4 separate regions of the Homo sapiens genome follow, and regions 2, 3 and 4 are each linked to region 1. The links come from fine-mapping of genetic effects on gene expression. A gene starts in region 1. Each other region holds a variant in brackets. All regions are shown on one strand. Distances are between the middles of the regions. Region 1 holds the start of VANGL1 (VANGL planar cell polarity protein 1). Region 2 has its middle 68 kb from the start of VANGL1. Region 3 holds the start of LOC124900438 (small nucleolar RNA SNORA42/SNORA80 family). Region 4 has its middle 71 kb from the start of VANGL1.

Evidence for each region.
Region 2: its variant is fine-mapped to the expression of VANGL1 in whole blood (TOPMed, PIP above 0.99).
Region 3: its variant is fine-mapped to the expression of VANGL1 in whole blood (TOPMed, PIP above 0.99).
Region 4: its variant is fine-mapped to the expression of VANGL1 in whole blood (TOPMed, PIP above 0.99).

The regions. Positions count from the first base shown.
Region 1 is chr1:115,640,502-115,643,106 of GRCh38, reverse strand. It overlaps VANGL1 (VANGL planar cell polarity protein 1), which reads right to left and starts at 1,137. Exons shown (of 8, transcript NM_138959.3): 1 at 1,021-1,137. RefSeq lists an enhancer at 522-1,280 and a silencer at 416-1,405.
Region 2 is chr1:115,573,029-115,575,633 of GRCh38, reverse strand. No RefSeq gene overlaps it. Among named protein-coding and RNA genes, the nearest start is that of VANGL1, 68 kb to the left of the region's middle. The variant T/A (reference allele first, on the strand shown) is at 1,470.
Region 3 is chr1:115,619,907-115,622,511 of GRCh38, reverse strand. LOC124900438 (small nucleolar RNA SNORA42/SNORA80 family) reads left to right here and starts at 507; the gene lies at 507-640. The variant G/A (reference allele first, on the strand shown) is at 1,038.
Region 4 is chr1:115,569,361-115,571,965 of GRCh38, reverse strand. No RefSeq gene overlaps it. Among named protein-coding and RNA genes, the nearest start is that of VANGL1, 71 kb to the left of the region's middle. The variant T/C (reference allele first, on the strand shown) is at 1,385.

The sequences.
Region 1 (2,605 bases):
TCTACACAATCATCATCATAAGGCGCTCTAACACTTCCTAAGGAGAATCTAAGAGAGCTCACAACACCTTCGCAGCGTGGGCATTAGACCTGGTTTGGAGAAGTGAAAACTGAGCAACAGATTCCTCAGCTCCAAGTCTCATCTGCTCATCACACAGCAGCCAGGCCGCGGCTCCGCCCCACTGCTGCCGCCACCACGGACGCGTTTAAATTTTTATAAAGCTTCACACTTCTCTAGGCGCGATGCTTGGGGCAGTTCAAAGACTGCAGAAGGAAATGAGGTCCTGCCGGTGGCGAAGGCTGCCCCGGCGCGGTGAGATTTCCTCCAGCAGGGACACCTTGGGCAGAGACCCGCCAGGCGCCTCTGCTCCACCCCGGCGTTTTTGAAAGTAAACTCCTACCTGCCTGTTGCGCTCTCCGAGGCGCAACCGGACTCGCCCCCCAGGCCTCCAGGGCCGGCTCAATTTTTTGTGAGCGAGGTGTGCACACAGACCAGCTCTGTCCCGGTTCCTGGCGAAGGGCCAGGCGGCGCCCGGGTCGAGCCCCGCCAGGGGTGGGAACCCCGGTGCGCGCCCGGCTCCCGCCCTGCACGGCTGCTGCAGCCGCCCGGTGCCTCCAACGCTCGGCCACTCCCTGCCGGCCTGCCCGCCGCCCCGGCACGCGCACCGAAGGGGCGCACTCCAAAGGCCAGCCCGGGGAGAAAGGGACGTCCGAGGTGTGAGCAGGGAACCCCGGGACCCCAAGGAGTGGGGTGCGGCGGAGATCGCACGGCAGGGCCAGGAGGGGCGCAACGCATGGGGAGAAGAGTGGAGTCAGAGGAAGCACTACCCGGAGCGCTCCGGAGGAGGGGAGGGAGCCCCCGGCCCGAGGCGGGAGCCGGCCACCCGGGGTCGAAGTCCGGCGGGGCGAATGCGGGAGGAGGGCGCAGGGGCACGCGGGGTCCGAGGTGGGGGCGTCTCCCAGCCAACGGTCTGCCCCGGGGACCGCCGCCGCGCAGCGCTCGGCCTCTCGCGGGACTCACCTCCGCGCCGGCCGCCCGAGCTCCGCGGCCCGCGGTCTCGGCTCACAGCGGCCCCGGCTCTGCGGCCTGCGCTGGGCTCCTGGAGAGGCAGAGCCCCGCCGCCGCCGCCGCTGCACTGCTGCTTTCCGCTTCCTGTCCCGGCGCCGCCCCGCAGCCCGAGCCCAGCCCTGCGAGCCCGGCGCGGCCGCGAGCCAAGAACAGCTAGCGCTGCCGGCCCCGCCGCGGGGCCGGCCCACCTGCAGCGGAGGGCGGGGCTCGGCCGGCGTCCCCCTCACCTCGTCACCGCCCCGACCCCACACACCCGGGACACACACGAAGGCGTGCGCGGTCACACTCTTACACACGGACCAGGGAATGACACCTCCCACACTCATTCACCCTCATACACACACTCACCCTACACAGACGTGCACAGCCCAGTAACCCACTCTCTTCTGGGCAGACACACACACTATAAACACATGGCCCAGGGATTGATCTCCGACACCGCCCCCTCCCTCCCCCACATACTTGGAATCTCAAGCTCACACACACACACACACACACACAATCATGCACAAAATCCGAGCCCATTTGCCCTCACGAGTGCCCCCATCCACATATTCACACGGCTCAGGGACTAACCCCCCAACCCCACTCAACACACACTCATATACACACTTTCCAAGAACTGACCGACAAATATCCATATACACCATATCTCAACCCATATACACACACTTAAACTCACATGTAGCCCTGGAAATGACCCCACAAATAGACACACACACACACACACACACACACACACACACACCCCCTACAAGCCACCACAGCAAGCCTCTCCCCTCCTCCTCCCTTATCAGAGCAGGCACTGCCGCCAGCCTAGTCTCCTAGAAACTGCTAGATGAGCACATCTCTGCAGGCAGGTAGCTGAAGCTTCAGTGCTGATTCCAACCAGGTACTGTTTCCTTTCTGAGCCTTTGTTTACCTGTCTGAAAAGTGGTGAGGATGCTGCTGTCCACCTTGCAGGATTGTGGTGAGGATTACAAAACAGTTGGCAACGATTTTCATGAATATTTGCACTTTTCTTAGTTGTCTTGTGTTGGTAGCATTAGGGTTCCTTACTGATCATCTCCAATCTAGCTGGGACCCAAAGCTGCTTACGTGGCAGGATTTTCCAGTGGAAGCAGTGTATAATGAAGTGCTGAATTTCCTAAGAGTTGTCTACAGGAGTATTGCGGGCATTTGGGGTGGGGAAATGCAGGCCCACCCTGACTAGCCTTAATCAGGGAACCTTGGCTCCAAGAACCCCTCACTCCCTTGATCACCTCTTCCTCATCCCTTCTAGACTCCATTTTCTCTCGCATATGTCACATTTCCTTGAGAAGACACCCATATGTTCAATGTGGCTGATTTTCACCACTCCTAGTCCCCAGGCTCTGCTGCCCCACTCAGTGGCCTAGACCATCTTCCTCCCCCACCCCCAGCCTCCCAGTAGGCTCCAGAGAGCAGATGTTGCTGACTCAGGCAGCCAGGTTCCTATGGGTAAAGCCAATGGTCTATTCACCCAAATCAGCACTCAGGGTCAGAAATGTAGAACATT
Region 2 (2,605 bases), 67 kb after region 1:
CTTCCAGCCATGCTTCCTGTTAAGCCTGTGAAACTGAGTCAATTAAACCTCTTTTCTTCATACATTACCCAGTCTCAGGTATTTTTTTTATAGCAGTGTGAAAACGGACTAACACATATACTGTAGTGAATTACACAGATTATTACATGTTTTGCAAGAGCAAATTATATTTATTTGAAATGGGAAGAGAGCATTTTATTGCATTTTGTGTATTATATTTATTTTCCAGAATACGGAAAGAAAATTAAAGTAAATGTTAATAAATGCTTTCTAGAGAGTAATAAAAAATAGACACAAAAACAAAAACATCACCATTACAGATATAAAAAATCTCTTTTTCTTCTCAGTGTGCACCAAATACTTAGTTGATTTGAGATAAACGTGGACAAATAAAGGAAAAGGGGTGTCAAATGGGATTATTTGTCATCTCTCTCAAAAGAGAATAGATGTCTATCATTTATCTAGAAAAATAACCCAAATTGTGAGTGCATAAAACCAAATTCTCAATTATTGCTGCTACCAGTAGAGAATAACTTTTTGATCAAAAAGTTTCTTTGGCCAAAAACAAAAAAAAAAAATTCAGTAAAGATAAAAAACCTGGAAAAAAGGAGACTTAACGTAATACTGTAATTAATTCTTTGCTACTGGGTTTTCCATCAGTAGTAGTTTGCCTTCATAAAGCTGTTTGCTTCCTGAGTAAAACTAGACATGGAAATCCTGCTTAGCCCACTGGTACAGTCTGAGGTTCTCTAAGCTGTGTAATCTTGGAATTATGTATTCAAGAATCTATTATTTGAAATATTGTATTACTCTGTTTTCATACTGCTGATAAAGACATAACCAAGACTGGTCAATTTAAAGAAGAAGGAGGTTTAATGGACTCACAGTTCCATCCATGTGGCTGAGGATGCCACACAATCATGGCAGAAGGTGAAAGGCACATCTCATATGGTGGCAGATAAGAGAAGAGAGCTTGTGCACAGAAACTCTCATTTTTTAAAACATCAGATCTCGTGAGACTTATTCACTATTATGAGAACAGCACAGGAAAGTGCCGACTCTATGATTCAGTTATCTCCTACCAGGCCCCTCTCACAATACGTGGGAATTATGGGAGCTACAAGATGAGATTTCGGTGGGGACACAGAGTCAAACCATATCATTCTGCCCCAGCCCCTCCCAAATCTCATGTCCTCACATTTCAAAACCAATCATGCCTTCTTAGCAGTGCCCCAAAGTCTTAACACATTCCAGCATTAACTCAAAAGTCCACAGTCCAAAGTCTCATCTGAGACAATGCAAGTCCCTTCCACCTAAGAGCCTGTAAAATCAAAAGCAAGTTAGTTACTTCCTAGATACAATGGGGGTACAGGCATTGGGTAAATACAGCCATTCCAAATGAGAGGAATTAGTCAAAACAAAGGGGCTACAGGCCCCATGGAAGTCCAAAAACCAACCCGGCAGTCAAG[T/A]CTTAAAGTATCAAAGTGATCTCCTTTGACTCCATGTCTCATATCCAGGCCATGCTGATGCAAGTGGTGGCTTCCCATGGTCTTGGGCAACTTCGACCATGTGACTTTGCAGGTTATAGCCCCTCTCCTGGCTGCTTTCATGGGCCAGCATTGAGTGTCTGCGGCTTTTCCAGGTGCACAGTGCAAACTGTCAGTGGATCTACCATTCTGGGATCTGGGTGACCTTGGCCCTCTTCTCACACCTCCACTAGGTGGTGCCCCAGTAGGGACTCTGCTTGAGGGCTCTGACCCCACATTTCCCTCCCATACTGCTCTAGCAGAGGTTCTCCATGAGGGCCCCACCACTGCAGCAAACTCTTGCCTGGGCATCCAGGCATTTCCATACATCCTCTGAAATCTCGGTGGAGGTTCCCAAACCTCAATTATTGACTTCTGTGCCCTTGCAGGCTCACCACCACATGGAAGCTGCCATGGTTTGGGGCTCCCACTCGCTGAAGCAACAGCCCGAGCTGAACCTTGGCCCATTTTAGTCATGGCTGGAGTGGCTGCAATGCAGATCAAGTCCCTAGACTGCACACAACAGAGGGACCCTGGGCCCGGCCTGGGAAACCATCTTTTTCTCCTAGACCTCCAAGCCTGTGATGGGAGGGGCTGCTGTGAAGACCTCTGAATGCCTGGAGAAATTTTCCCCATTGCTTGGGGGTTAACATTCATTAATTAACTCGTTCCTTATGCAAATTTATGCAGTGGGCTTGAATTTCTCTTCAAAAAATGGGTCTTTCTTTTCTATTGCATTTTCAGGCTGTGAACTTTCCAAACTTTAATGCTCTGCTTCCTTTATAAAACTGAATGTTTTTAACACCACCCAAAGTCACCTCTTGAATGCTCCTTAGAAATTATTCTGCCAGATACCTGAAATCATCTCTCTCAAGTTCAAAGTTTCACAAATCTCTAGGGCAGGGGAAAAATGCCATCACTCTGTTTGCTAAAACATAGCAAGAGTCACCTTTACTACAGTTCCCAACAAGTTCCTCATCGCCATCTGAGACCTCCTCAGCCTAGACCTTGTTGTTCATATCACTATTAGCATTTTTGACAAAGCCATTCAACAAGTCTCTAGTAAGTTCCACAAACTT
Region 3 (2,605 bases), 21 kb after region 1:
ACTCACACAGGAATGTAAATAGTGCCTGTTATGACCAGCCAGGCTGAAAAACCTCAGTTTGTGGAGCACTGGGTAGTGTAATCAGAAAGGTATTCCCTCAGTAGTGGGACAAAAAGCCCCCTAGTTGAAACATTGCTCAGGTTGTGCCAAACAAAGCTTAGAAGCAAGACCTGAAAGTGTCAAACTCTTTCTAATAACTCTGTATTACAGAACAAAGTTCAAGGATATTTATGAAATGCACAAATATCTGTCACCCAATAAAGCAAATTTACAATGACTGAGATCCTATAAAAATTACCAAACATATAAAGAAGTATACAGGAGAAAGTGAGCCATAACAGGGAGGACAATATATCAACTGAAACTCACAAAACTGACATAGATGATAGAAGCAGAAAAACAAAATCAAAATGGTCATCTTAAGTTGTATCTCATATATTCAGAAACTTAGGTGAAAGATTAAACATGATAAGTAGAGAAACGAAAGACATAAAACAAACCCAACAGCATGGTAGTGGGTTCATTGGGGGCCCTTCTCTGTGGGCCTCATAGCGTACCCATGCCAGTGTAAACTTGAGCCTTGAACCATTGCCCAGCCTCCTTCCCATGGGCTGTGTGTAGCGAAGGGGGTTGCACAGTGTCAAACAAGCAAAAAAATCCAAGTTGAGCTTCTAGAGATGAAAATTATAATTTCTGAAATAAAAATTACACTAGATAGGATTAACAAAAGGTAAGACATTGCAGAAAAAAAATTAATAAACTTGAGGACATAGCAATAGATACTATCCAAAATGAAACACAGAGAAGGCCAGGCACGATGGTTCACACCTGTAATCCCGCACTTTGGGAGGCTGAGGTGGGCAGATCACGAGGTCAGGAGTTCGACACCAGCCTGGCCAACATGGTTAAACCCCATTAAAAAATACAAAAATTAGCTGTCTGTGGTGGCAGGTGCCTGTAGTCCCAGCTCCTCAGGAGGCTGAGGCAGGAGAATTGCTTGAACATGGGAGGCAGAGGTTGCAGTGAGCCGAGATTGC[G/A]CCACTGCCCTCCAGCCTGGGCAACAGAGTGAGACTATGTCTCAAAAAAAAAAAAAAAGAGACATAGAAAAAAATTGAAAAGTGAGTCATGGGTATAATATACATGTACTAGGGGTTTCCCAGGAGGGGGATAGAAAAAATACATGAAGAAATAATGGCTCCCAACTTTCCAAATATCATGAAAATGATAAACTCTCAGATTCAAGAAACTCAATGAAACTTGAAGAAAATTGCTCAACAACATCAAATTGCTCAAAGCCAGTAACAAAGGGAAAAACATTTGGGGGGATGAGGGGCACAGGGAATGGAGACATTACATACAGAAGAACTAAGAGAAGAATAACAGCAAATTCATCATCAGAAACAATGCCAGCATGAAGACAATGGAGTAACTTCTTTAAAGTACTGAAAAAAAAAATGTCAGTTTAGCATTCTACACAATATACTTTTATATCCACTGAAAATATCTTTCAAAAATGAAGGCAAAGTAGATAAATTTTTAGACTTAAAAAATCTGAATGTATTAATCACCAGCAAGTTTATGCATCTTCTGCAATGTCTAATCAGTTGTTAATCCCATTCAATGTTTTTTTTTTAAATTTCAGACATTGTAATTTTTAATCCTTAAAGTAAGTTTTATTTTGGTCTCTTTTATATCATCCATGTTTTTACTTAATTTTTTGGAATAACTATTTTAATGCCTTTGACTGCTAAATTTAACATCACTATTAATTCTGTGTCATTTTCAGATTATTTATTTACCCCCTTATTTTAGTTAATATTTTCCTGCTTTTCATGTTTTGTAATTTTTTACTGGATGCTAGACATTGTTAATTTTACCTTGTGTGCTGGATATTTTTGTATTTCTATAAATGTTCTTGAGCTTTGTTCAGGGATGCAATTAAGTTACTTGGAAACAGTTAGATCCTTTCAGGTATTGCTTTTAATATATGTTAGGTGGGACCTGAGTCATATTTAGACTATGGCTCATTATTTCTAAACACTGAGGAAGATCTTTTGGAGTACTCTACCCAATGCCCCCTGAATTGTGAGGTTTTCCAGCCTGGCTGGTATGATTAGGTACTATTCCTAGTCACTGTGAATGCCGTGTACTGTTTCCTCTAATCCTTTTGGGTAGTTCTTTCCTCAGTCTCAGATTGTTTCCCCTCACCCACGCACTGATCAGTATCCTGTAGAATACTTGAGAGAGACCCTCTGCAGATCTCAGTTTTCTCCCTCTGCAGTTGTTGACTTTCTGGTACTCTCTACCGAAAACCCTAGCTACCTTAGTTTCCCTGGACTCTCAGCTCTGTCTCCTCATCAGATAGTATTCTAGGCTTTTCCTGGGTTTGCTTTCCCTGAACCAGAGCCAGGAACTCTCCCAAAGGAGTATACCTGGGCAATCATAGGTCTCACTTTGTTTGTTCTCTATCTCTCAGGAATCACTGTCTTTTGTTGACTAATGTTCAGGGTACTGAAAATAATCATTTTGCATATTTTGTCCAGTTTCTTGGTTTCTGGCAGGAGTGTAAATGTGGTCACTATTATTCTGTCTTGGTTAAAAACAG
Region 4 (2,605 bases), 71 kb after region 1:
CTGAAAAATCTCCAGGGCCTTCACATAAAGCATATTGTTTTTGAAATATTTATATTAACAATATTTCACCCATTCAAACTTAATTCAGGGAGGGCTAAGTGTTTTCTATGTTTTCTATGATTTAATAATTCCTCCTCTGCAGTTTTTTTTTATTTTTTATTTTTTATTTTTTAAAGATGGAGTCTTGCACTGTCACCCAGGCTGGAGTGCAGTGGCACAATCTTGGCTCACTGCAACCTCTGCCTCCTGGGTTCAAGTGATTCTTCTGCCTCAGCCTCCCATGTAGCTGGGATTACAGACATGAGTCACCACACCTGGCTAATTTTTTGTATTTTTGGCAGAGATGGGGTTTCACCATGTTGGCCAGGCTTGTCTCGAACTCCTGACCTCAGGTGATTTGCCTGCCTTGGCCTCCCAAAGTGCTAGGATTACAAGCATGAGCCACTGCACCCGACTTTTTTTCTTTTTTTTTTTTTTTTTGAGACAGAGTCCTGCTCTGTTGCCCAGGCTGGCATGATCTCGGCGGCCCACTGCAACTTCCACCTTCCAGGTTCAAAAGATTTTCCTGCCTCAGCCTCCAGAGTAGCTGGGACTACAGGCATCCACCACCTCGCCTGGCTAATTTTGTATTTTTAGTAGAGAGGGGGTTTCATTGTGTTGGCCAGGGTGGTCGAACTCCTGACCTCAGGTGATCCACCTGCCTCAGTCTCCCAAAATGCTGGGATTACAGGTGTGAGCCACTGCACCCAGCCTCCTCTGCAGCTCTTACAATAAATGCTGAGCTGGTTAAGAAATACGAAGCATGCCAAGCAAACCTAATTATCCTAACATCTCTCCTAGTTATAAGGTAAAATAAAAAATTATGGCTATTTTCCATGGGCTCTTGGGGTTATCTTAATAATAGTTCTAGGTATAAATAATATTCTGAAAATATTACTTTTTATTTGTCCTAAATGTAGGACCTGATCTTGGGAGAGCAAATTCGAAAGGTCGTAGGAACAGAATTGATCACTTGATGTAGACAGGGTCTTGGGTGACTGAGGAGCAACATTTAGCAACTTAACCTAATTATAATAAAATATTAAAAAATAAACCAAAGAAAATAATACAGCTCCACAGAAACTTAGTACTTCTGTTTTTTTTAATAATCATAAAGTCAACAAAACACAGGAAATTATTCTAAGACATGGAAATTTTTATCTGTAGGCAGATTGAAGAGATGATAATTAATAACCTTTCACGTTGTAAATGAAGTCATTAATCAATAAACCCAGAAAGCAGGTCCATCAGAACTGACCAAAGTTTGCCAAAATTTTAGTAGATAATTTCTTTTCATAATTTCTTTTCAGACTCAGATGCTTTAAACCAAGGCAAATCCAATTCA[T/C]TCTGCTTGAGCTTTGTCCTTCATTATGCTCTTTCTTCCTCTAACTGGAAGAAACTGTTACTTTAGGACTATTTCTTTTCATTTGAAAAATAAACATACAGGTTATTTTCCTTGTTACTATTGTTCTGATATAGTTTTAGCCACCTATATTATTATTACTTTTAATCAAAGTAATTAATTTCTGTTTTGCAGAAAATTGGGAATAGGTAATTGACTTCTGTCATATACAAGCATTTTAGCAGATCATCAAAGATCTTGAATACACAAAGCACAACTTTCTACAGCCACCCAATCCTTTTATACTTTCTTAAAGTGGCAAAAATGACTGAAAGATATAGCTGCTCTATTGCATATGAAAATAAGAAGCAAAAGAAAATAAATTAAAATTATTCTTAGTATTCAATGCTTGTATCCAATATTTTCCTTTTATTAGCTCACTTTAATATTAGTTCCATGTTTTAGGTTTTCTAAGACCTTCAAAATTATGTTTAAGCTGACATACAATAAAACATAATTTCTGCTGATATTAAAAGTTCACTCAGCAAAGAAGTTGAGGTTCCATTGCCACTTGGAAGCCACTCTGAGAACTAACAAAAGATGTGCCTGGACTTAGGCAGCTCATGGGGTGCCTGTCTCATGCAGTGCAATTCACCTGACTCCTTCAGGAGAGTCACTGGAGCAGCTTAGTGGATGATCTTCAAAAGTGCTAAGATAGTCTCAGAATGGCAAATTCATGACTCTCATGGAAATTTAAAATAAACATGTATCAACACTTTACATAACTCTTTAAATAATGAGGAAACTGGTAAGATATTAAAATCAGTTTAAATCAAGATTTGACCTCCAGTGATTTCTAGTCTCTGTGGGGCAAAATCCATTTACATAGTTATAGAGAGGAATCATTTTTACTGCTATGGAAGAAAACACTTTTGTTTGTTTAAAGGAACTTTTATTAAAATTTAAAAAGTGTAAACTATACTGATAACATTCTTTTTTACTGATATATAAAAATTATACATATTTATGGAGTACATGTGATATTTTGAGATATGCATAAATGTGTAATGATCAAATTATTTAGAATATCCATCATCTCAAACATTTATCATTCGTCTTGAGAACATTTCAAATCTTCTCCCTATTATTATTATTATTATTATTTTTAGAAAAGTCTTGATCTGTTACCCAGGCTAGAGTGCAGTGGCACCATCTCAGCTCACT